Linked DNA regions of Homo sapiens: all the other regions are linked to region 2. The links come from fine-mapping of genetic effects on gene expression. A gene starts in region 2. Each other region holds a variant in brackets. All regions are shown on one strand. Distances are between the middles of the regions. Region 1 holds the start of JAK3 (Janus kinase 3). Region 2 holds the start of INSL3 (insulin like 3). Region 3 has its middle 30 kb from the start of CCDC124.

Region 1 (8,183 bases), 31 kb after region 2:
TTTTATTTATTTATTTATTTTGTAGGGGGGAGGACGGATTCTTGTTCTGTCTCCCAGGCTGGAGTGCAGTGGCATGATCTCGGCTCACTGCAAACTCCACCTCCCAGGTTCAAGCGATTCTCCTGCCTCAGCCTCCTGAGTAGCTGGAATTACAGGCACCCGCCACCAAACCTGGCTAATTTTTGTGTTTTTAGTAGAGATAGGGTTTCACCATGTTGACCAGGCTGATCTCGAACTCCTGACCTCCAGTGATCCGCTGGCCTCAGCCTCCCAAAGTGTTGGGATTAAAGGCATGAGCCACTGTGCCCAGCCCCAGTCGAGTTTAAAATAAGGCTTCAGTGGCAGTGGCGCCCCACTGCAATCCCAGCTACTCAGGGGGCTGAGGCAGCAGGATAGCTTGAGGCCAGGGGTTAGAGACCTGCCTGAACAACATAGCAAGACTCCCATCTCCAAAACAACAAAAAAATCTTAACAGAATATTATTATTCTGTAATACTGTAACAAAAAAAAATGAAAAGTCAGAGGTGATGTTTGGTCCCAGAAAACGCCATAGTTTTTTTGGTTTTTTAAAAATGTTTGTAGAAATGGAGGTCTGGCTATGTTGCCCAGGCTGGCCTTGAACTCCTGGCCTCAAGCTATCCTCCCGCCTCGGCATCCCCTGTTTATAATCCTCAACGTTCTGCATCCTGGTATGGTCGGGTACCCTGTGTCTGGACCGGGAAGGCCTGGAGGGTAGGGGCTGGGAACTCCGCCCCCCAATCCCTCCTTCCCAATCCCTCCTCCCCACCCCCAACCCCGCAGCCCCCGTCGCGCATGCGCAATGACTCCTCCAGGTCCGCAAGGCAGGCATCTCCCGGCCTTAGTCAAAGCCGAAGCCCAGAGAAGCGAGCGATCGGAGGATGCGAGTCTCGGCTCACGTCTGCCTCGCAGCTTTCCTCCGAGGCCTGGAAGGCGAGCTAGCCTTTGCCCTGGCAGCACCCTGCCCCAGCCCAGCCATCCCCCGCCACCACCATCCTCCCCCAGTGTCTGGGCCGAGCCCTGCGGCATCGCCAGCTCTTACCTAGCGGGCAGGGACCCTGGACTTTCGAAGGGCGGGCAGAGCCGGGAGGCAGCGAGAGGAAAGTCCCACTCGGCTCCTTCCTGTGTGGGCCCCTTGGTTTCCTGAGCCACTGTCATTTACCGAAAGTCAGGGCCCTGCGGGAGCTGGGGGCGGGGAGGCGGGCAAGGAGGGGCAGAAAGTTCCGGAAGCCTCTGCATCAGCCGCCCCGTTCAGACAGGCTGCTGGAGACCCCTAAGCCAAAGGAACTGATGATAGCACAGAGAAGGGTCTGGGTCACACCAGGGGCTCAGCCGACTCTAGACCCACTTGTTAAGTGGGGCTCTGGCCCGGCCCTTATTGCCTCAGTTTACCCATCTGTAGCATGTGTGAGTTGGGCACCCAGTGGAACTAATTTTGCACCCAGGGAAGGAAACCTGGCTGGATTTGCCCAGGAGGGAAGCAGGGAAGTTGCCCCAGAGGAAGGTCAAGTTCTTCTTTGAGGTATTTCTCCCTTAAGACTCAGGGAGACGCTGGGCGCAGTGGCTCACGCCTGTCATCCCAGCACTTTGGGAGACTGAGGCGGGCGATTACTTGAGGTCAGGAGTTTGAGACCAGCCTAGCCAACATGGCGAAACTCCGTCTCTACTAAAAATACAAAAATTAGCCAGGCGTGGTGGCCTGTAATCGCAGCACTTTGGGAGGCTGAGGCGGGCGGATCACTTGAAGTCAGGAGTTTGAGACCAGCCTGGCCAACATGATGAAACCCTGTCTCTACTAAAAACAGGAAAATTAGCCAGGCCTGGTGATGCCTGTAATCCTAGCTACTCAGGAGGCTGAGGTGGGAGGATTGCTTGAATCTAGGAGGCGGATGTTACAGTGAGACGAGATGGCGCCACTGCACTCCAGCCTGGCAACAGAGCGGGACTTCGTTTAAAAAAAAAAGAAAAGACTCAGGGAGAGATAATGACCCATTTCTGCCTGTGGTGCCCTGGGCCCAGCCCTAAAAAACCAGGTGGATCCGGCCTGGCCTCTTGGAACTTGTGATCTGGCGCTGAGACAATGAGCAAATGAAGGAGCCAAATCATCGCAGACAACAAAGAAAGCCAGGGTGTCAGGACAGGCACAGACTGGAACTTGGACCCGAGGCAGGACAGGGAGCTGGCCAGGGAAAGGGTGCTCCAGGAGGAGGGCACAGGATGGGCAAAGACCTTGAGAGGGCAGTGATCTTAGCAGCTTGAAGAGCAGTCAGGAGGCCAGGGGCAGGGGTGAGATGAGGGGGAAGGGGACTGCAGGGCGGTCAACAGGGGCAAGATCGTGGGGGGACAGGGGGATCAGGGTCTTTGGGAGAAGGGTGGGTTTTGCCTGGAGCATAATCTGGAGCCACAGGAGAGTTGGAAGTAGGAGCTGTTATAAATAGAAGAGGCAGAAGGCCCGGGCAGCATCCAAATGCAGAGACTTGGGCCAGTGTTCTTAGGATAATAGGATCAGAGCCCCGGAAGTAGAGCTTCAGGAATAGACTGACGAAGTGGTGACCGGGTACAGTGGCTCACATCTGTAATTCCAGCACTTTGGAAGGCCCAGGTGGGAAGATTGCTTGAGCCTAGGAGTTCGAGACCAGCCTGGCCAACATGGTGAAACCCCATCTCTACTAAAAATATAAAAATTAGCTGGGCGTGGTGGCATGTGCCTGTAATCCCAGCTACTTGGGAGGCTGAGGCAGGAGAATCACTGGAACCCAGGAGGCAGGCGGAGGTTGTAGTGAGCTGAGATTGTGCCACCGCACTCCAGCCTGGGCGACGGAGCAATACTCTGTCTCAAAAAAAAAAAAAGGAATAGATTTAAGAAGTTGTGGCCAAGAACAGTGGCTCACACCTGTAATCTCAGCACTTTGGGAGGCTCAGGCAGGAGGATGGCTTGAGCCCAGGTGTTCGAGACCAGCCTGGGCAACATGGTGAAACCCTGTCTCTACAAAAAATACAACAACAACAAAATAATAAGCTGGATGTGGTGGCATGTGCCTGTAGTCCCAGCTACTAGGGGAGGCTGAGGTGGGAGGATCACCTGAGCCCAGGAAGTTGAGGCTGCAGTTAGCTGTGGTCATGCCACTGCACTCCAGCCTGGGCAATGGGAGTGAGATCCCGTCTCAAAAAAAAAAAAAAAAAGACTTTTCATCTCTGTATCACCATCACAAGTCTTAACACAAAATGGTTTGGTAAGTATTTTGTTGATCTTAACTGTTCAATCAGCCAGAGGCTTATTGGACACAGCCTGTGTGCAGGGAATCGGGGACAATGCAGACCCAATCCCTGTCCAGGGGAGCTGACAGTCCAGCAGGGGAGATGGCAATAAACAAGCTATTGCCCAATAATTATATCAGTTGCCCCTGGGACCGGTCTGCTAAGAGAGATGACTGGATCTGGGAGGGCTTCCTGGAGGAGGTGGCTTTGATTCTGAAATCCAACAACAAGTGGGACTAGCCAGAGAGTGACCTGAGAATGTGGGAGTGTGGGCAGTTCTGGCAGGCAGAACAGCCCAGGCAAAGGCCTGGAGGCTTCACGAATTCACAGTGTTCCTGAGAAGAGCAGGATGTCAGGGACACGGGGGGCTGAGACTCATTTGATGGCGTGGGTAGGGCCGCGTGGGTCAAGGGAAAGAGATATAGATTATGTCCTCAGCTTAGTGGAGCTTAGTGGAGCCACAGCTGACCTGCGGCAGGAAGTGCCAAGCAGAAGCTTAGTTGTAGTGTTTTCTTTCACTTCCTGGGTGGCTTCAGCAGACGGGAATGCAACCTTATGTTCTCATCCTTGGCCTGAGGCTGAAGCCTCTGCTTTCCGGAAGTACAGTGAGTTTCTGGGTCTCTGCTACCTCCAGTGTGATGGTTTCTGCAATATTTTGAGAATAAGTAAGAGGAGATTGGGGTGAGGACCAAAGTGGTACCTTCAGCCCCAGAGAAGGGCATGTGAAGGCTCTAAAAGGAAGTTCTGGCCGGGCGCGGTGGCTCACGCCTATAATCCCAGCACTTTGGGAGGCCGAGGCGGGCGGATCGCCTGAGGTTAGGAGTTCGAGACCGGCCTTGCCAACCTGGTGAAACCCCATCTCTACTAAAAATACAAAACGCAGCTGGGTGTGGTGGCGGGCGCCTGCAGTCCCAGCTACTCAGGAGGCTGAGGCAAGAGAATCACTTGAACCTGGGAGGCGGAGGTTGCAGTGAGCCGAGATCGCACAACTGCACTCCAGCCTGGGCGACACAGCAAGACTCCGTATCAAAAAATAAATAAATAAATAAATAATTTTTTTTAAAAAAAGGAAGTTCTGGGGACAGAACCCAGAACTTGCCCGAGAAAAATGGGGCACGTCAGTGATGCAAACACCCAGATTTTTCTGCTGACAAGAAGTCCATAAATACAATCAAAGAATAAAATACAATCAAAGTGTAACTGGAAACAAAATTGAACTCATGGATAAAATATCCT[C/T]GTTATATAAGTAACATCTAGAAAGCAGTAAGAAAATGCCAACCAGTTAGGTGGATATGAATCCAGAAGTCAGAGAAAATGGAGGACAAATAGCTCTTAAACCCAGAAAAATTTCCTCAGCTTCACTTGCCAAATGAAAATTAAGAGTACAGTGAGGCAGGGCCAGGCACGGTGGCTCATGCCTGTAATCTGAGCACTTTGGGAAGTCAACATGGGAGGATCATTTGAGCTCAGGAGTTGGAGATTAGCCTGGGCAACATGGTGAGATCCGTCTCTACAAAACATACAAAAATTAGCCAGGCATGGTGGTGTGCACCTGTAGTCTCAGCTACTTGGAAGACTGAAGTGGGAGGATGGCTTGAGTCCAGGAGGCAGAGGTTGCAGGGAGCCAAGATAGTGCCACTGTACTCCAGCCTGGGCGACAGAGCGAGACTACATCTCAAAAACAAAAACAAAAATGGTAAAAGACTGAATAACTTCCTCCTGAGATTGGAAACAAGACAAGGATGTCCATTTTCACCACCTCTATTCAACATTGTTCTGGTGATGTTAGCCACTGTAATAAGAAAAGAAAAAGCAGGCTGAGGCAGGAGAATGGTGTGAACCAGGGAGGCGGAGCTTGCAGTGAGCCAAGATCGGGCCACTGCACTCCAGCCTGGGTGACAGAGTGAGACTCCGTCTAAAAAAAAAAAAAAAGAAAGAAAGAAAAGAAAAGCTGGGCATGGTGGCTCACGCCTGTAATCCCAGCACTTTGGGAGGCTGAGGTGGGAGAATCACAAGGTCAGGAGTTCAAGACCAGCCTGATCAACATGGTGAAACCCCATCTCTACTAAAAATACAAAAATTAGCCAGGCATGGTAAAAATACAAAAATTAGCCGTGCGTGGTGATGCGCGCCTGTAATCCCAGCTACTCAGGAGGCTGAGGCAGGAGAATCGCTTGAACCCGGGAGGTGAAGGTTGCAGTGAGCCAAGATCGCGCCACTGCACTCCAGCCTAGGTGACAGAGGGAGACTCTGTCTCAAAAAAAAAAAAAAAATTAAAAATTGGCAGGGTGTGATAGCTCACACCTGTTGTCCCAGCTATTTGGGAGGCTGAGGATTGCTTGAGTCAGGGAGGACAAGGCTGCAGTAAGCCATCATCACACCATTACACTCCAGTCTGGGCAACAGAGCGAGATCCTGTCTTAAAACAAAAAAATATATGAGAAAAATAAACAAGTCAGGTGTGGCTGGGCATGGTGATACATGCTTGTAGCCTCAGCTACTGGAGAAGCTGAAATGGGAGCCCAAGAATTTAAAGGCAACATAGCAAGATTCTGTAACAAGCAAAACAGAATAAAATAAGTAATAAAAAAAAGGTAAATAAAACTGTTGCTATTTGCTGATGATATGATTGTTTATGTCAAAAACCCAAGGGAATCTATAAGACAACTACTGAAATTAATACATAAATTCAGCAAGTTACCAGGTTTAAAAAGTCCGTTGAATTCAATACAAAAGTCAATTGAATTTTTATACACCAGCAGCAAACAATTGGAACATAAAAAAATTTTGAAAAATTTCCTTTGCAGCAGCACTGAAAAAGATAAAATACTGTGATGGTCTGAGAGTTTGCGTCTCCCCAAAATTAATACATTGAAATCCTAACCTCGAAGGCGGTGGTATTCAGAATCGGAACCTTTTAAGAGGTGATTAGATCATGAGGGTTGAGCTCTCATGAATGGGATTAATGCCCTTATAAAAGAGGCCCCTAGGCTGGGCATGGTAGCTCACGCCTGTAATCCCAGCACCCTGGGAGAATTGCAGGCTGGTCTCTGACAAACAACTTGTGTTTGAGACCAGCCTGGGCAATGTGGCGAAACACCACCTCTACCAAAAAAAACACAAAAATTAGCTGGGCATGGTGGTGCACACCTGTAGTCCCAGGTCAGGAGTTTGAGGCCAGCCTGATCAACGTGGAGAAACCCCATCTCCACTGACAAAACAAAATTAGCTGGATGTGGTGGTGCATGCCTGTAATTCCAGCTACTTGGGAGGCTGAGGTGGGAGAATCGCTTGAACCCAGGAGGTGGAGGCTGCGGTAAGCCGAGATCACACCATTGCACTCCAGCCTAGGCAACAAGAGCAAAACTCTGTCTCAAAAAAAAAAAAAAAAAAAAAAAAGGCCGGGTGCAGTGGCTCATGCCTGTAATCTTAGCACTTCGGGAGGCCAAGGTGGGTGGATCACCTCAGGTCAGGAGTTCAAGACCAGCCTGGCCAACATGGTAAAACCCCGTCTCTGCTAAAAATACAAAAATTAGCTGGGTGTGGTGGCGCACGCCTGTAATCTCAGCTACTCTGGAGGCTGAGGAAGGAGAATCGCTTGAACTCGGGAGGTGGAGGTTGCAGTGAGCTGAGATCGCGCCACTGCATTGCACTCAAGGTTGCGTGACAGGAAAGAGGCTACATCTCAAAAAAAAAAAAAAAAAAAAAAGAAGGCCAGGGACCTGGAGTCCGGAGTGCATACAAGTGGGTGGCTTTGCAGTGTTTTGAGGACCAACGGTCAGAAACCAAGATTTGGGTGTCTTGGGCCCAGCCTTGGGAAGGCACTGGTGCCAGTAACTGAGATGAGGGAAAGAGTGGGAAGGATGAGGCACATCAGCATTGTGAACGCTCCGTGATCCAAGCTGTGGCTTGGCCCAGGATCCTGGATGAACAAACTGGTGCCTTCAAAGTCCCTGGGAAAAAGACAGGGGGGACAGGGGTGCCCTTGGACAGCCCTGCTAACCAGGAACTCCTCGCCTGGGCCCCACTGGATGGTGATAACAGAGACACAGAGTAGCCCAGGACCAGCCTGCTCAGGTCAGATTCCTGCATGGCCCGAGGTGGGGGCAGAGGAATCCTGCCAGGCCAGGTGTGTCACTAGGAAGCCGGGGCCACGGCATCACTCAGGCACCGACAACATGTAAAAGAAAGAAAAATAATAAAGCTTTTTTTTTTCTTTTAAATTAAGACAGTTTCACTCTGTTGCCCAGGCTGGAGTGCAGCGGCATGATCTTGGTTCACTGCAACCTCTGCCTCTAGGGTTCAAGTGATTCTCGTGCCTCAGCCTCCCGAGTAGCTGGGATTACAGGTGTGTGTCACTGCACCCAGCTAATTTTTGTATTTTTGGTAGAGACGGGGTTTCACCATGTTGGCCAGGCTGGTCTCGACTCCTGACCTCAAGTGACCTGCCCGCTTCAGCCTCCCAAAGTGCTGGGGTTACAGATATGAGCCACTGTGCCCAACCAAAAAGAAAAATAATAAAGCTCTGGGCCGGGCGCGGTGGCTCACGCCTGTAATCCCAGCATTTTGGGAGGCTGAGGTGGGTGGATTATCTGAGGTCAGGAGTTCAAGACCAGCCTGTCCAACATGGTGAAACCCCGTCTCTACTAAAATTACAAAAATTAGCCGGGCGTGGAGGCAGATGCCTGTAATCCCAGCTACTCAGGAGGCTGAGGCAGGAGAGGATGGCTTGAACCCAGGAGGCAGAGGCTGCAGTGAGCTGAGATTGTGCCACTGCATTCCAGCCTTGGCAATGGAGTGAGACTCCGTCTCAAAAAAAAAAAAAAAAAGGAAACAAGAAACCCTGTCTCTACAAAAATTAGCCAGGCATGATGATGGGTGCCTGTAATCCCAGCTACTCTGGAGGG
Region 2 (8,172 bases):
CACTTTGCGTTGCAATGCCTCTCTAGTTATCAAGCTCCTGGAAGTGCCGGTGGGTCCATGGCTGCTGGGGGACAAGCCCACACAGGGACTGACTGAGGCTTGTCCCTTTTTCTAGAGAAAATGCAGGAAGCTGCTTTGGGTCGTTTATTTACTAAGAGACAGCAAGAAGGGGTGTTACACATGCAGGGAGCGGAGCGTCTGGGGCTCCCCTGGAGTGAGGACATTTGGCTGTCAGTGTCCAGCATCTGTGAAAGCGGGGATCCTCCAAGCCAGGGCTAGGGTGTGATTTATTCTGCAGTTGACTCCACAGGCTGCAGGTGGCATTGGTCTGGGGTAGATAGTGAGCACCCATCCCAGGAGGTAATCAAAGGCCTGTAGATGCGAGACTTTATGGTGCTGTGTGGCCTCAGGAGCTCACCAGACCAGACCCTCTGGGCCTCAGGCCACTCTGAGGCTGCACCCAAGGAGGAATCAGTAGGGACAGAGGGTCAGCAGGTCTTGTTGGGTACAGCCACTGAGGCAGCAGTAGCGTGCAGGGTTGGTGGCAGCTGCACGGTGGTGGCGGTGATGGTGAGAGGTCTGGGGCAGGGGCTGCAGGCCAGGTCCCAGCGTGAGATTACTGTCGGCCACCAGCCCATGGAGCAGATGTCGTCTCTCCAGCCACTGTAGCAACTCACCTGGGGACAGAGTGAAACTCAGCTGGAACGGAAACGACAGAGGACATGCTACCCCATGCTGCATGTGCACGAATCCACACACATCCCACTGAGTAACCCACCAAACACTCATGCATGCAGATAAAAAGTGAGCACTGGCCGGGTGCAGTGGCTTACACCTGTAATCCCAGCACTTTGGGAGGCCGAGGTGGGCGGATCACGAGGTCAGGAGTTTGAGACCATCCTGGCTAACACAGTGAAACCCCTTCTCTACTAAAAAAAAAAACAACCAAAAAATTAGCCGGGTGTGGTGGCGGGCGCCTGTAGTCCCAGCTACTCAGGAGGCTGAGGCAGGAGAATGACGTGAACCCAGGAGGCAGAGCTTGCAGTGAGCCGAGATCACGCCACTGCACTCCAGCCTGGGTGACAGAGTGAGACTCTGTCTCAAAAAAAAAAAAAAAAAAGTGAGCACTGGCCCGGCTCAGTGGCTCACGCCTGTAATCCCAGCACTTTGGGAGGCCGAGGTGGGTGGATCACTTGAGGTCAGGAGTTTGAGATCAGCCTGGCCAACATGGTAAAAACCTGTCTCTACTAAAAAATACAAAAATTAGTCAGGCGTGGTGGTGGACGCCTGTAATCCCAGCTACTGGGGAGGCTGGGGTGGGAGAATCACTTGAACCCAGGAGGTGGAGGTTGCAGGGAGCTGGGATCATGCCATTGCACTCCAGCCTAGGTGACAAGAATGAAACTCCATCTCAAAAAAAAAAAAAAAAAAAAAAAGCGAGCACTTATTAAGCACCTACTGTACGCCAGGCACCTGGTTAATCCTCTCATCCACTCAACTCATGTCCACACTCACATCCCCAGCTGCGTGGGTCCCCATATGCCACCTGAGTGCCCCATGCCCTGCCCAGGGAGTGTCGGGGGTCTTGGAGCTACAGATGGTGTCAGTTTCCCCAACAGGTCCAAGGGTCCGTGAGACACCCAGAGCAGGTCAGAGACCCACCCACAGACTCCTCGTGGTACAGAGACATGCAGGGGTGTACATGTGTCTGTGGGTCCACTTCCTGGTCACCCACGCATGTGTGGTGGACCCACAGACACACACACACCCCTACGAGGACACACCCTTGCAGACCACCTCCCCTGGATCCCTAACACCGCAAGTGGAGTGGCACACAGAGACATGTGGACACGTGTTAACACATCTGCACAAACTTGTCGTATATCCCTGCACCAGGGCCAGGACTAGGGTACAGACAGGGAGGCACGAAGCCATCAGGATATTTTTTTGAGGCCAGGCACCGTGGCTCACACCTGTCATCCCAGCATTTTGGGAAGCCTAGGTGGGTGCGTTGCTTGAGCCCAGGAGTTCATGACCAGCCTTGGCAATACAGCAAAACCTCATCTCTGCAGAAAATACAAAAATTAGCTGGGCATAATTCTGCATGCCTGTAGTCCCAGCTACTTGGGAGGCTGAGGTGGGAGGATCGCTTGAGCCTGGGAAGGCAAGGCTGCAGTGACCCGAGATCGTGCCACTGCACTCCAGCCTGAGTGACAGAGCAAGACTGTCTCAAAAGAAAAAAAAAAGGACTTATGAAAATTTAGAGGGTTGTTTACCCTCTACCCAATCTGCAGTTTACAATTGACACCAGTGGTTCTCAAACCAGGGTGATTTTGTTTCCAGGGGATACTTGTCTGGGGACAGTTTTAGATGTCACAACTTGGATGGGGTGTGAGGCTATTCATGGCATTAGGGGGCAGAAGACAGAGATGTTATCTAACACCCTACAATATACAGGACAGCCCCACTACCATATACATCCCCAAATGTCAGCATCAGCTTTTTTTTTTTGAGATGGAGTCTCGCTCTGTTGCCAAGCTGGAGTGCAGTGGCGTGATCTTGGCTCACTGCAACCTCCACCTCCCGGGTTCAAGTGATTCTCCTGCCTCAGCCTCCTGAGTAGCTGAGACTACAGGTGTGCGCCACAACGCCCGGCTAATTTTTGTATTTTTAGTAGAGACGAGGTTTCGCCACGTTGGCCAGGCTGGTCTCACCAGCCTGAGAGTAGCTAGTCACAGCTACTCAGGAGGCTGAGGTGGGCAGATTGCTTGAGTCTGGGAGGCAGAGGTTGCAATGAGCCGAGATCACGCCACTGCACTCCAGCCTGGGTGATAGAGTGAGACCCTGTCTCAAAATATATATATATAATAATAATAATATTAATATTTTTCCCTTTTTTGAGACAAGGGTCTCTGTCTCAGGCTGAGTCTCATATTGCCCAGGTTGGTCTCAAACTCCTGGCCTCAAGTGATCTTCCCTCCTAGCCTCCTGAGTAGCAGGGATTACAGGCATGAGCCACCACATCCAGCAAGGTAAGTATTTTAATGCAATACTTTTAAAATAAAATTTAAAATATTTGTAAAAAGGCCAGGCACAGCGGCTCACGCTTGTAATCCCAACACTTTGGGAGGCTGAGGCGGGCAGATCACCTGAGGTCAGGAGTTCAAGACCAGCCTGGCCCGGGCACAGTGGCTCATGCCTGTAATCCCAGCCCTTTGGGAGGCCGAGGCAGGTGGATCACGAGATCAGGAGATTGAGACCATCCTTGCTAACATGGTGAAACCCCATCTCTACTAAAAATACAAAAAATTTAGCTGGGCTTGGTGGCAGGCGCCTGCAGTCCCAGCTACTCAGGAGGCTGAGGCAGGAGAATGGCGTGAAGCCGGGAGACGGAGCTTGCAGTGAGCCGAGATCACACCACTGCACTCCAGCCTGGGGGACAGAGCGAGACTCAATGTCAAAACAAAACAAAACAAAACAAAACAAGACCAGACTGGCCAACATGGTGAAACCTGTTGTTTCACCTGTTCACCTGTCTCTACTAAAAATACAAAAAAAAAAAAAAATCAGCTGTGCATGGTAGTGGGTGACCTGGGGAGTGGCCTGTAATCCCAGCTACTTGGAAGGCTGAGGCAGGAGAATTGCTTGAACTCAGGAGGCGGAGGTTGCAGTGAGCTGAGATCGTGCCACTGCACTTCAGCCCGGGTGACAGAGCGAGACTCCATCTCAAACAAACAAACAAAATACAAAAATTAGCCAGGTGTGGTGGTGCGTGCCCGCAGTCCCAGCTACTCTGGAGGCTGAGGCAGGAAAATTGCTGGAACCCGGGAGGCAGAGGTTGCAGTGAGACGAGATCACGTCACAGCACTCTGGTTTGGGTGACAGAGCGAGGCTATGTCTCAAAATAAATAAATAAAAATAAAATAATAAAATAAAGTAACATAATTGTGAAAAGCAATACTTTTCAAAAGCAATACTTTTAAATACTTTTAAAGCTGGACACAGTGACTCACATCGCTAATCCCAACACTTTGGAAGGTCAAGGTGGGAGGATTACTTGAGCTCAGGAGTTTGAGACCAGCCTGGGAAACAGAGTGAGACTCCCTCTCTACGAAAAAGAAAAAAAAATTAGCTGGGTGTGGTGGCAGCACCTGTATCCCAGCCACTCCAGAGGCTGAGGCAGGAGGATGGTTTGAGCCCAGGAGGTTGAGCCTGCAGTGAGCCGAGATCTCACCACTGCACTCCAGCCTGGGCGTCAGAGTGAGACCCTGTCTCAAAAAACAAACAAACAAAGCAAAATTAAGGCAAAAATTCATGAAGATCAAAATATTGAAATTTTAAGACAGGATCTCACCATGTACTTGCAAGAGCCTACCTCTCCTGCCTCACTCTGTTTCTGGCCCCTCAGGGGGACTCATGCTCTGAGGACTTTCTTTTTTTTTTTTTTTTGAGACGGAGTTTCACTCTGTCGCCCAGGCTGGAGTGCAATGGCATGATATCGGCCCACTGCAACCTCTGCCTTCCGGGTTCAAGCGATTCTCCTGCCTTGGCCTCCCAAGTAGCTGGGATTACAGATGTGCATCATTATCCCCGGCTAATTTTTTTAAAAATTATTTTTAGTAGAGATGGGGTTTCACCATTTTGGCCAGGCTGGTCTCGAACTCCTGACCTCTGGGGATCCACCCGCCTCAGCCTCCCAAAGTGCTGGGATTGCAGGCGTGAGCCACCACGCCTGGCTAACGGCTCTGGGGACTTTCACACGCGCGTTCACACACACTCCAGTGCGGACCCACGATCTGTGCACGCAGCCGGCAGGTGAGCCCTGGGCACATGCATGCAAACCTGCCCACCTCCCTGCACGTGTGCATCTGCGCCTACGTGCACCTGCCCCACCTCGGCTTCCCAGAGCGCTGTCCCTGCCCGTCCCCACTCACGGTCGCCTCCGGTCGCAGGCCTCCTGGCTTCGGTGGACCAGCGGGGGCCCCCGCACACGCGCACTAGCGCGCGTACGAAGTGGTGGCCGCACAACTTCTCACGCATCTCTGGGGTGGGCGCGGGGCCCAACGCGAACACCAGGGCAGGGCCCAGCAGCACCAGCGCCCAGGCGGGCAGACGGGGGTCCATGGTGGTGGGTGGCGCCGGGGCCAAGCGGGGACCCCCTTTATAGGCGCCTGGGCCGTCCCAGCTGGGGGCCTTGGAGAAGGGACAGAACATTCTTCAGGACCGCCCAGGAAAAAGGTCAAGGGTGGGGTTAGTGCCAGAGCCTTTCTCCCAGGGCCAGGGCCTTGGATGTACTTCTCCCAGAGGGAGCACTGGGCAACGAGTCTTTCTTTTTTATTTTTTTCTTCTTTTTTTTTGAGATGGAGTCTCACTCTGTCACCCAGGTTGGAGTGCAGTGACTTGATCTCGGCTCACTGCAACTTCTGACACCCGGGTTCAAGCGATTCTCCTGCCTCAGCCTCCTGAGTAGCTGGGATTACAGGTGCGCACCACTATGCCTGGCTAATTTTTTTTTTTTTATTTTTTATTTTTAGTAGAGACTGGGGTTCGCCATGTTGGCCAGGCTGGTCTCCAACTCCTGACCTCAAGCGATCCATCTGCCTCGGCCTCCCAAAATGCTGGGATTACAGGCATGAGCTGTGCCTGGACTATTATTATTTTTATTATTATTATTGAGACAAAGTCTTGCTCTGTCTTCCAGGCTGGAGTGCAGTGATGCGATCTCGGCTCACTGCAACCTCCACCTCCTGGGTTCAAGTGATTCTCCCACCTCAGCCTCCCAAGTAGCTGGGATTACAGGTGTAAGCCACCACGCCCAGCCACCTATTTTTATTTTTTATTTTTGAGATGAGTTCTTGCTCTGTTACCCTGGCTGGAGTGCAGTGGCACGATATGGGCTCACTGCCACCTCCCTATCCCTGACTCAAGCAATTCTCCCACCTCAGCCTCCTGAGTAGCTGGGACTACAGGCCCACGCCACCACACCCGGCTAATTTTTTGTATTTTTTTTGTAGAGATGGGGTTTTGCCATGTTGCCCAGGCTGGTCTCAAACTCCTGGACTCAAGTCATCTTCCCGCCTCAGCCTCCCAAAGTCCTGGGATCACAGGCGAGAGCGACCACACCAGGGTATTTATTCATTTTTGACATAGGATCTCTCTGGGTTGGCCTGTAATGGCAGGATCATAGCTCACTGTAACCTCATTCCCCTGGGCTCAAGCGATCCTTCAGCCTCTGCCTCCTGAGTAGCTGGGACTACAGGCCTGCAATACAATGCCCAGCTAATTTTTAATTTTTTAATTTTTATTTTTATCTTTTTAGACAGAGTCTTACTCTGTCACCCAGGCTGGAGTACAGTGGTGCGATCTCGACTCACTGCAACCTTTGCTTCCTGGGTTCAAGCGATTCTCCTGCCTCAGCCTCCTGAGTAGCTGGGATTACAGGTGCCCACCACCAAGCCTGGCTAATTTTTGTATTTTTTAGCAGAGACGGGGTTTCACCATGTTGGCCAGGCTGATCTCAAACTCCTGACCTCAAGTGATCCACCCGCCTCGGCCTCCCAAAGTGCTGGGATTACAGGCGTGCACCAACGCGCCCGGCCATTTTTAATTTTTTAATTGTAGAGGCAGGGGTCTTGCTATGTTGCCCAGGCTCATCTAGAACTCAAGTGGTTCTCCCTACTCGGCCTTCCAAAATGCTGGGATTACAGGTGTGAGGCACCACACACGGCCAAGTCTTCGCTATTGTCTTAACCAGTTTAAAGAGATGAAATAGATCAACTGAAAAGTAATAATCCTGCCTTTTCTGGGGGGCAGGGGGGAAGACAGCGGGCATCTTCCAAGACCAGAAATGTTCAGAATTTTGTTGTTTCTATTACTGTACAAATGAGAAAACTGAGGCACACAGGCCAGGTGCAGTGGCTCATGCCTGTAATGCAAGCACTTTGGGAAGATGGGGCAGGTGGATCACTTGAGGTCAAGAGTTCGAGACCAGCCTGCCCAATATGGTGAAACTCTGTCTCTACTAAAAATACAAAAATTAGCCAGATGTGGTGGTGCATGCCTATAATCCCAGCTACTCGGGAGGCTGAGGCAGGAGAATCACTTGAACCCAGGAGGTGGAGATTGCAGTGAGCCGAGATGGTGCCGCTGCACACCAGCCTGGGGACAGAGACTCCGTCCCCTCACCAGACAAAAAGAAAGAAAAGAAAAGAAAAAAAGAAAACTGAGGCACAGAGAAAGGACCCCAAACTTGCCCAAGGTCACAGGAGGCTGAGCAGAGCCCAGGTCTTCTCAAGGCGCCTGACACGCAGGGCTGGGGGTGTCCCATCCGAAGCTCTGTCTCCCCAACACGGTTGTCCCCTCTGGGTGAGCAGGGGCTGGTGGACCCAGAATAGAGCAGGATTTATTTGTTCAGTGGATGCTTGGCCCCCGCTTCATGCCTAGGGGGTCTTATAGCTTTGTTTTTCCAAGGAGGGAATCTGAGGTTGAGAGAGGGAAGGATGCTTGACCCTAGGCAGGAGAGAACCTGGGCTGGAACTCGAGTCTTGCTTGACCCCAGAGCAGCTCCCTCCCTATTTCTACCAAATTAGGGGGCCCTCTGGGGCTAAGAGAGCAGGGACAGGGATCTCTCTCTCTCTCTCTCTCTGAGTCTCTCTCGGCCTTCATCTCTCAGTTTCCTTCTGTATGTCTGTCTCTGTCCGCATTTTTCTTTTTTTTGAAACGGAGTCGCTCTGTCGCCCAGGCTGGAGTGCAATGGCATGATCTCAGCTCACTGCAACCTCCACATCCCAGTTTCAAGCAATTCTTCTGTCTCAGCCTCCTGAGTAGCTGGGATTACAGGCATGTGCCAGAACACCAGGCTAATTTTTGTATTTTTAATAGAGACGGTTTCGCCATGTTGGCCAGGCTGATCTCATACTCCTGACCTCAAGTGATCCTCCTGCCTTGGCCTCTTAAAGTGCTGGGATTACAGACGTGAGCCACTGAGCCTGGCCACTCTCCACATCTTTCTAGCAGTTATGAGGTGCACATGACGGGGGCCGGTCGGTGGGGAGGTGGTCCGGCCCCAGTGATGCTGGTCCCCTCCCCACAGCCTCGCTCCCCCAACCTGGCCTTGTCCTCTGACCACCGGGAGAGCATCCTGTTCCTTCCCCACCCACAGAGAGCCTGTAA
Region 3 (8,183 bases), 82 kb after region 2:
AAGGCTGCAGTGAGCCATGACTGTACCCCTGCACTCCAACCTGGGCGACAGAGCAAGACCCTGTCTCAAAAAAAAAAAAAAAAAAAGGCTGGAGTGCAGTGGTGCAATCACAGCTCACTGCAGCCTCCACCTCCTGGGTTCAAGCGATTCTCATACCTCAGCCTCCCGAGTAGCTGGGATTACAGGCGCTCACTACCATGCCTGGCTAATTTTTGTATTTTTAGTAGAGATAGGGTTTCGCCATGTTGATCAGGCTGGTCTGGAACTCCTGACCTCAAGTGATCTGCCTGCCTCAGCCTCCCAAAGTGCTGGGATTACAGTCATGAGCCACTGCACCTGGCTGCAAAAAAAGGGGAAATTTAGTTTCATTTTGGGTTAATTTTCGTATATGAGGTAAGGGTCTGATATGGTTTAACTCTGTGTTCCCACCCAAATCTCATCTTGAATTGTACTCCCATAATTCCCACGTGTTGTGGGAGGGAGCTGGTGGGAGATAATTGAATCATGGGGGCGGTTCCCCCCATACTGTTCTTGCGGTAGTTGTGGTAGTGAATAAGTTTCACGAGATCTGATGTTTTTTGTTTGTTTGTTTGTTTTGCTTTGTTTTTTTTTTTGAGACAGAGTCTTGCTCTTTTGCCCAGGCTGGAATGCAGTGACATGATCTCAGCTCACTGCAACTTCCACCTCTCGGGTTCAAGCAATTCTCCTGCCTCAGCCTCCCAAGTAGCTGGGACTACAGGTGCCTGCCACCAAGCCCGTCTAATTTTTTGTATTTTAGTAGAGAGTAGAGGGTTTCACTGTGTTGCCCAGGCTGGTCTCGAACTCCTGAGCTCAGGCAATCTGCCTGCCTCAGCCTCCCAAAGTGCTAGGATTACAGGCATGAGCCACCGTGTCTGGCCGAGATCTGATGGTTTTATCAGGGGTTTCCACTTTTGCATCTTCCTCATTTTCTCTTGCCACTGCCATGTAAGAAGTGCTTTTCACCTCCTGCCATGATTCTGAGGCCTCCCCAGCCGTGTAGAACTGCAAGTCCAATTAAACCTCTTTTTCTCTGTCTCGGGTATGTCTTTATTAGCAGTGTGAAAACAGACTAATACAGTAAATTGGTACTGGGAGTGGGGCATTGCTGAAAAGATACCTGAAAATGTGGAAGTGACTTTGGAACTGGGTAACAGGCAGAGGTTGGAACAGTTTGGAAGGCTCAGAAAAAGACACGAAAATGTGGGAAAGTTTGGAACTTCCTAGAGACTTGTTGAATAGCTTTGCCCAAAATGCTGATAGTGATATGGACAATAAGGTCCAGGCTGAGGTGGTCTCAGATGGAGATGAGGAACATGTTGGGAACTGGAGCAAAGGTGACTGTTGTTATGTTTTAACAAAGAGACTGGCAGCATTTTGCCCCTGACCTAGAGATATGTGGAATGTTGAACTTTGAGAGAGATGATTTAGGGTATCTGGTGGAAGAAGTTTCTAAGCAGCAAAGCATTCAAGAGGTGACTTATGTGCTGTTAAAAGCATTCAGTTTTAAAAGGGAAACAGAGCATAAAAGTTTGAAAAATTTGCAGCCTGACAATGTGATAGAAAAAAAATTGCATTTTCTAAGGAGAAATTCAAGCCAACTGCAGAAATTTGCATAAGTAATGAGGAATCGAATGTTAATCCCCAAGACAATGGGGAAAATGTCTCCAGGGCATGTCAGGGGTCCTCACAGCAGCCCCTCCCATCACAGGGCTGGAGGCCTAGGAGGAAAAAGTGGTTTTGTGGGCTGGGCCCAGGGTCCCCAAGCTATGTACAGTCTAGGGACTTGGTGTCCTGTGTCCCAGCCGCTCCAGCCATGGCTGAAAAAGGCGAATGCAGAGCTCAGGCCATGGCTTCAGATGGTGCAAGCCCCAAGCCTTGGCAGCTCCCACATGGCATTGAGCCTGTGGGTGCACAGAAGTCAAGAATCAAGGTTTGGGAACCTCCACCTAGATTTCAGAAGATGTATGGAGATGCCTGGATGCCCAGGCAGAAGTTTGCTGTAAGGGTGGGGCTCTCATGGAAAACCTCTCCTAGGGCAGTGCAGAAGGGAAATATGGGGTCAGAGCCCCTACATAGAGTCTCTACTGGGGTACTGCCTAGTGGAGCTGTGAGAAGAGGGCCACCATCCTCCAGACACCAGAATGGTAGATCCACCGACAGCTTGCACAATATGCCTGGAAAAGCCACAGACACTCAACACCAGCCCGTGAAAGCAGCTGGGAGGAACGCCGTACCCTGCAAAGTCACAGGGACGGAGCTGCCCAAGATCATGGGAACCCACCTCTTGCATCAGCATGACCTGGATGTGAGACATGAAGTCAAAGGAGATAATGTTGGAGCTTTAGGATTTGAATGCCCCGCCGGATTTCAGACTTGCATGGGGTCTGTAGCCCTTTGTTTTGGCCAATTTCTCCCATTTTGAATGGCTGTATTTACCCAATGTCTGTACTTCCATTTCCATCTAGGAAATAACTAACTTGCTTTTGATTTTACAGGCTTATAGGCAGAAAGAACTTGCTTGTCTCAGATGAGACTTTGGACTGTGGACTTTTGAGTTAATGCTGAATTGAGTTAAGACATTGGGGGACTGTTGGGAAGACATGATTGGTTTTGAAATGTGAGGATATGAGATTTGGCAGGAGCCAGGGGCAGAATGATGTAGTTTGGCCCTGTGTCCCCTCCCAAATCTCATCTTGAATTGTACTCCCATAATTCTCATGTGTTGTGGGAGGGACCTAGTGGGAGATAATCGAATCGTGGGGGCGGTTTCCCCCATACTGTTCTCGTGGTAGTGAGTAAGTCTCACGAGATCTGATAGTTTTATCAAGGGTTTCTGCTTTTGTGTTTCCCTCATTTTCTCTGGCCACTGCCATGTAAGAAGTGCCTTTTGCCTCCTGCCATGATTCTGAGGCCTCCCCAGCCATGTGGACCTGCAAGTCCAATTAAACCTCTTTTTCTCAGTCTCAGGTATGTCTTTATTAGTAGCGTGAAAATGGACTAATACAGGGTCCAACGTCATCATTTTGCTGTGGATATCCAGTTTTCCGCAGAATTTGTTGAAAAACACTTGTCCTTTCCCATTTAATGGTCTTGGCATCCTTGTCAAAAATCATCTCACTGTATATTAAGGGTTTATTTCTGGGCTCTCCATGTCTTTTACTGATCTATATGTCTGTCTATGTAATTTTGACCTCAAGGTTCCTTGAGATGAATTTAAGAATGGATTTTTCTCTTTCTGAAAAAAAATTGAGATTTTGATAGGATTGCTTTGAATCAACGGATCACTTTGGGTACTATAGCCATCTTAACAATATTAAGTCTTCTAATTCATGAACATGGGATGTCTTTCTGGTATTTTTGTCTTTAATTTATTTCAGCGATGATTTGCAGTTTTCAGTGTACAAGTCTTTTGGCCCCTTGGCTAAGTTTTTCTTAAGTTTTTTATTCTTTTGGACACTACCATAAGTGGAATTTTTTTCTTACAGTGAGCTGTGATCTTGCAGTGAGCCTCAGTTGTGCCACTTCGGTTTTTTTTTCTTTTCTAAAGCAAATAACAAGACACAGTTTACCATTTTTACTTTTTAAAACCTAACCTTGGCTGGGTGCAGTGGCTCATGCCTGTAATTCTAGCACTCTGGGAGGCCGAGGTAGGTGGATCACTTGAGGCCAAGAATTCAAGACCAGCCTGGCCGACATGGTGAAGCTCCATCTCTACTAAACATATAAAAATTAGCTGGGTACCTATAATCTCAGCTACTTGGGAGGCTGAGGTGGGAGGATCACTTGAACCCGGGAGGTGGAGACTACAGTGAGCCGAGATCGTACCATTGCACTCCAGCCTGGATGATAGAATGAGACTCCATCTCAAAAAAAAAAAAACATACAAAAAAAACCCCACCCAGCCTTAACACTACATATTTTTATTTTTACTTTTTTAAGACAAATTCTCACTCTGTCTCTCAGGCTAGAGTGCAGTGGCCCGAACTCACTGCAGCCATGAACCCCTGGGTTTAAGTTATCCTCCCACCTCAGCCTTCCAAGTAACTGGGACTACAAGCATGCACCATCACACCTGGTTAATTTTTAAAATTTTTTGTAGAGATGGGGCCCCACTATGTTGCCCAGGCTGGTCTCGAACTCTTGGGCTCAAGTGATCTTCCTGTGTCATCCTCCCAAAGTGCTGGGATTATAGGCGAGAGCCACCACACCCGACCTCATATGCCTTTTTCACATCCTGGGGTGAGGCATGTCTCTGCATGCCTGGAACTTAGTGGTAAGCCTCCATGTTGTAACAGATGGTGGGACCAGGTCCAAGAATGCAGGCAGCCAGTGGTGGGAAGCAGGGGAGGCTGAAGGCGACC[C/T]GGGTATCCTCTGGGCTTCTGCAGGGTTGTGCTGGTGGTGATAGTGGTGGAGGTTCTTTGTGCTTTCGTTTTTCTCCTTTCTCCAACAACAAACTGGAATTGGTTTCTTTTTTCATTGTTGTTGTTGTTGTTGTAGAGACAGGGTCTCTGTCACAGAGGCTGGGATGCAGTGGTATGATCACAGCTCACTGCAGCTTCAACCTCCAGGGCTCAAGTAATCCTCCAGCCTCAGCGTCCTGAGTAGCTGTGACTACAGAAAGCACCAGCATGCCTGGCTAATCTTAAAATTTTTTGTGGAGATGGGGTCTTGCTATGTTGCCCAGGCTGGTCTTGAACTCCTGGGCTCAAGTGATCCTCCCATCTCAGACTCCCAAAGTGTTGGGATTACAGATGTGAACCACTGTGCCTGGCCTGTTTGCCTAATTTCCTTTTCAGATTGTTCGTTGTTAGTGGTGTAGAAATACAATTGATTTTTTTTTTTTTTTTGAGATGGAGTCTCGCTCTGTGGCCCAGGCTAGAGTGCAGTGGTGTGATCTCGGCTCACTGCAACTTCCGCCTCCTGGTTTCAAGCGATTCTCCTGCCTCAGCCTCCCGAGTAGCTGGGACTACAGGCGCGTGCCACCATTCCCAGCTAATTTTTGTATTTTTAGTAGAGACAGGGTTTCCCCATGTTGGCCAGGATGGTCTTGAACTCTTGACCTCATGATCCACCTGTCTCAGCCTTCCAAAGTGCTGGGATTACAGGCGTGAGCCACCGTGCCCAGCCAATAAAATCGATTTTTGGGGGTTGATTTTGTATTCTGCAAATTTGCTCAATTTGCTTATTTTAACAGGCTTCTGTGGACATGTGTGTAACTTCTGGGATACTCTATGTATAAGATCATGTCATCTGCAAACAGAGATCATTTTATTCCTTCTTTTCCAGTTTGGATGCAGAAATTTTCAATTTCTGTTTCATGCCTAGTCACATTGGCTAAAACTTCATAGAGAGAGAGAGAGGGATACGGAATCTTGGTCTGTCACCCAGGTTGGAGTGCCGTGGTGTGATCTTGGCTCACTACAACCTCCACCTCCCACGTTCAAGCAATCCTCCTGCCTCAGCCTCCCCAGTAGCTGGGATTACAGGCATGTGCCACCACGCCTGGCTAATTTTTGTATTTTCAGTAGAGATGGGGTTTCACCATGTTGGCCAGGCTGGTCTCGAACTCCTGACCTCAAGTGATTCGCTCATCTTGGCCTCCCAAAGTACTGGGATTACAGACATGAGCCACCACACCCGGCCTGTAGGATGTTTAGCAACATCTCTGGCCTCATCCCTCTAGGTGCCAGTAGCACCACCATCCACTCCAGTTGTGACAATCAAAATTGTTTCCAGACATGGCGATTGTTCCCTAAGGCCTGGGGCAGAGTAGGAGAGTGGAATCATCCTTGCTTGAGGATCACTATTCTGCACTAAAAAAGAATCAAAAAGGATATGTAGGGTTCTCTTTTCCATAATATGTATTTATTATTTTTTAATTTTTTCGATACGGAGTCTTGCTCTGTTGCCCAGGCTGGAGTGCAGTGGCACAATCTTGGCTCACTGCAACCTCCGCCCTCTGGGTTCAAGCAATTCTCCTGCCTTACCGTCCCAAGTAGCTGGGATTACAGGTGCATGCCACCACGCCCAGCTAATTTTTGTAGTAGAGATGGGTTTTCGACATGTTGGCCAGGCTGGTCTCGAACTCCTGACCTCGTGATCCGCCTGCCTCGGCCTCCCGAAGTGCTGGGATTACAGGCATGAGTGACCATGCTCAGCCTATATTTAAATTTTTATTTCCCCCGAGATGGAGTTTCGCTCTTACTGCCCCAGCTGAAGTGCAATGATGCAATCTCGGCTCACTGCAACCTCCGCCTCCTGGGTTCAAAGTGATTCTCCTGCCTCAGCCTCCCGAGTAGCCGAGATTACAGGTGCCCGCCACCACACCCGGCTAATTTTTTGTATTTTTAGTAGAGATGGGGTTTCATCATGTTGCCCAGGCTGGTCTCAAATTGCTGACCTCAGGTGATCCACCCTCCTTGACCTCCCAAAGTGCTGGGATTGTAGGCGTGAGCCATCGCGACTGGACTATTTTTAATATTTAAAGTGATTCATTTTTATAGCCAGAAAAGAACATTTTGAAATTATTGGCCAGGTACACTGGCTCATGCTTGTAATACAAAAATACAAAAATTAGCCAGCTGTGGTGGCTTGTGCCCATAGTCCCAGCTACTTGGGAGGACCACTTGAGCCCAGGAGGCGGAGGTTGTAGTGAGCCAAGATCATGCTACTACACTCCAGCCTGGGCAGCAGAGCGAGCACTTTTCTCAAAAAGAAAGAAAAAAAGAAATTATTTACATTTATTGAGCACACAATATGTGCCAAGCAGTTTACCCATATATTAAAAGTATTGATATTTGCCGGGCTCAGTAGCTCACACATGTAATCCCAGCACATTGGGAGGCCAAAGCGGGTAGATTACCTGAGGTCAGGAGTTCGAGACCAGCCTGACCAACATGGAGAAACCCCGTCTCTACTAAAAAAAAAAAAAAAAAAAAAAAAAAAATACAAAATTAGCCGGGTGTGGTGGCACATGCCTGTAGTCCCAGCTACTCGGGAGGCTGAGGCAGGACAATCACTTGAACCCAGGAGGTGGAGGTTGCGGTGGGCCAAGATCGTGCCATTGCACTCCAGCCTGGGCAACAAGAGTGAAACTCCGTCAAAGTCTGTTTTGTTTTGTTTTGTTTGAGATGGAGTCTCGCTCTGTCACCCAGGCTGGAGTGCAGTGGTGCAATCTCGGCTCACTGCAAGCTCCATCTCCCAGATTCATGCCATTCTCCTGACTCAGCCTCCCGAGTAGCTGGGACTACAGGCGCCTGCCACTATGCCCAACTAATTTTTTGTATTTTTAGTAGAGATAGAGTTTTGCCGTGTTAGCCAGGATGGTCTCGATCTCCTGACCTCGTGATCCACCCCCCTTGGCCTCCCAAAGTGCTGGGATTACAGGCGTGAGCCACCATGCCCAGCAAAAAATAAAATAAATAAAGTATTGATGTTTATTGCTGGATTTGGTGGCTCATGCCTATAATCCCAGGGCTTTCAAAGGCTGAGGCAGGAGGATCACTTGAGGCCAGGAATTTGAAACCAGCTTGAAAAATATAGTGAGACCTTCATCTCTAAAAATAAAAAAATTAATCAGGCAGGGTGGTGTGTACCTATAGTTCTAGCTACTCAGGAGGCAGAGTCAGAAGGATTGCTTGAGCCCAGGAGTTCTAGGCTGCAAGGAGCTATGACCATGCCACTGCACTCTAGCCTAGGTAACAGTGAAACTTGTCTCTTAAAAAAATATGTGTTGGCCGGGCATGGTGGCTCACGCCTGTAATCCCAGCACTTTGGGAGGCCAAGGCAGGTGGGTCACCTGAGGTCAGGAGTTCCAGACCAGCCTGGCCAACATGGCGAAACCCTGTCTCTACTAAAAAAGTACAAAAATTAGCCGGGCATGGTGGCGAGCACCTATAATCCCAGCTACTCAGGAGGCTGAGGCAAGAGAAGCTTGAACCCAGGAGGTGGAGGTTGCAGTGAGCCAAGATGGCACCATTGCACTCCAACCTGGGCGACAAGAGTGAGACTCTGTCTCAAAAAAAAAAAAAATGTGTTGATGTTTATTGAGCAGAGACTCAGTAGGATACACTTTTTCTTTTCTCTTTTTTCTTTTTGAGACAGAGTCTCACCCTGTCGCCTAGGCTGGAGTGCAATGGTGCAATCTCAGCTCACTGCAACCT

Evidence for each region.
Region 1: its variant is fine-mapped to the expression of INSL3 in whole blood (TOPMed, PIP above 0.99).
Region 3: its variant is fine-mapped to the expression of INSL3 in spleen (GTEx, PIP 0.96).

What each region holds. Positions count from the first base shown.
Region 1 is chr19:17,846,886-17,855,068 of GRCh38, forward strand. It overlaps JAK3 (Janus kinase 3), which reads right to left and starts at 1,097. Exons shown (of 24, transcript NM_000215.4): 1 at 1,061-1,097. The variant C/T (reference allele first, on the strand shown) is at 4,513.
Region 2 is chr19:17,816,383-17,824,554 of GRCh38, forward strand. It overlaps INSL3 (insulin like 3), which reads right to left and starts at 5,137. Exons shown (of 2, transcript NM_005543.4): 1 at 4,935-5,137; 2 at 130-677. The coding sequence starts at 5,124. The coding sequence ends at 472.
Region 3 is chr19:17,898,596-17,906,778 of GRCh38, forward strand. No RefSeq gene overlaps it. Among named protein-coding and RNA genes, the nearest start is that of CCDC124, 30 kb to the right of the region's middle. The variant C/T (reference allele first, on the strand shown) is at 4,383.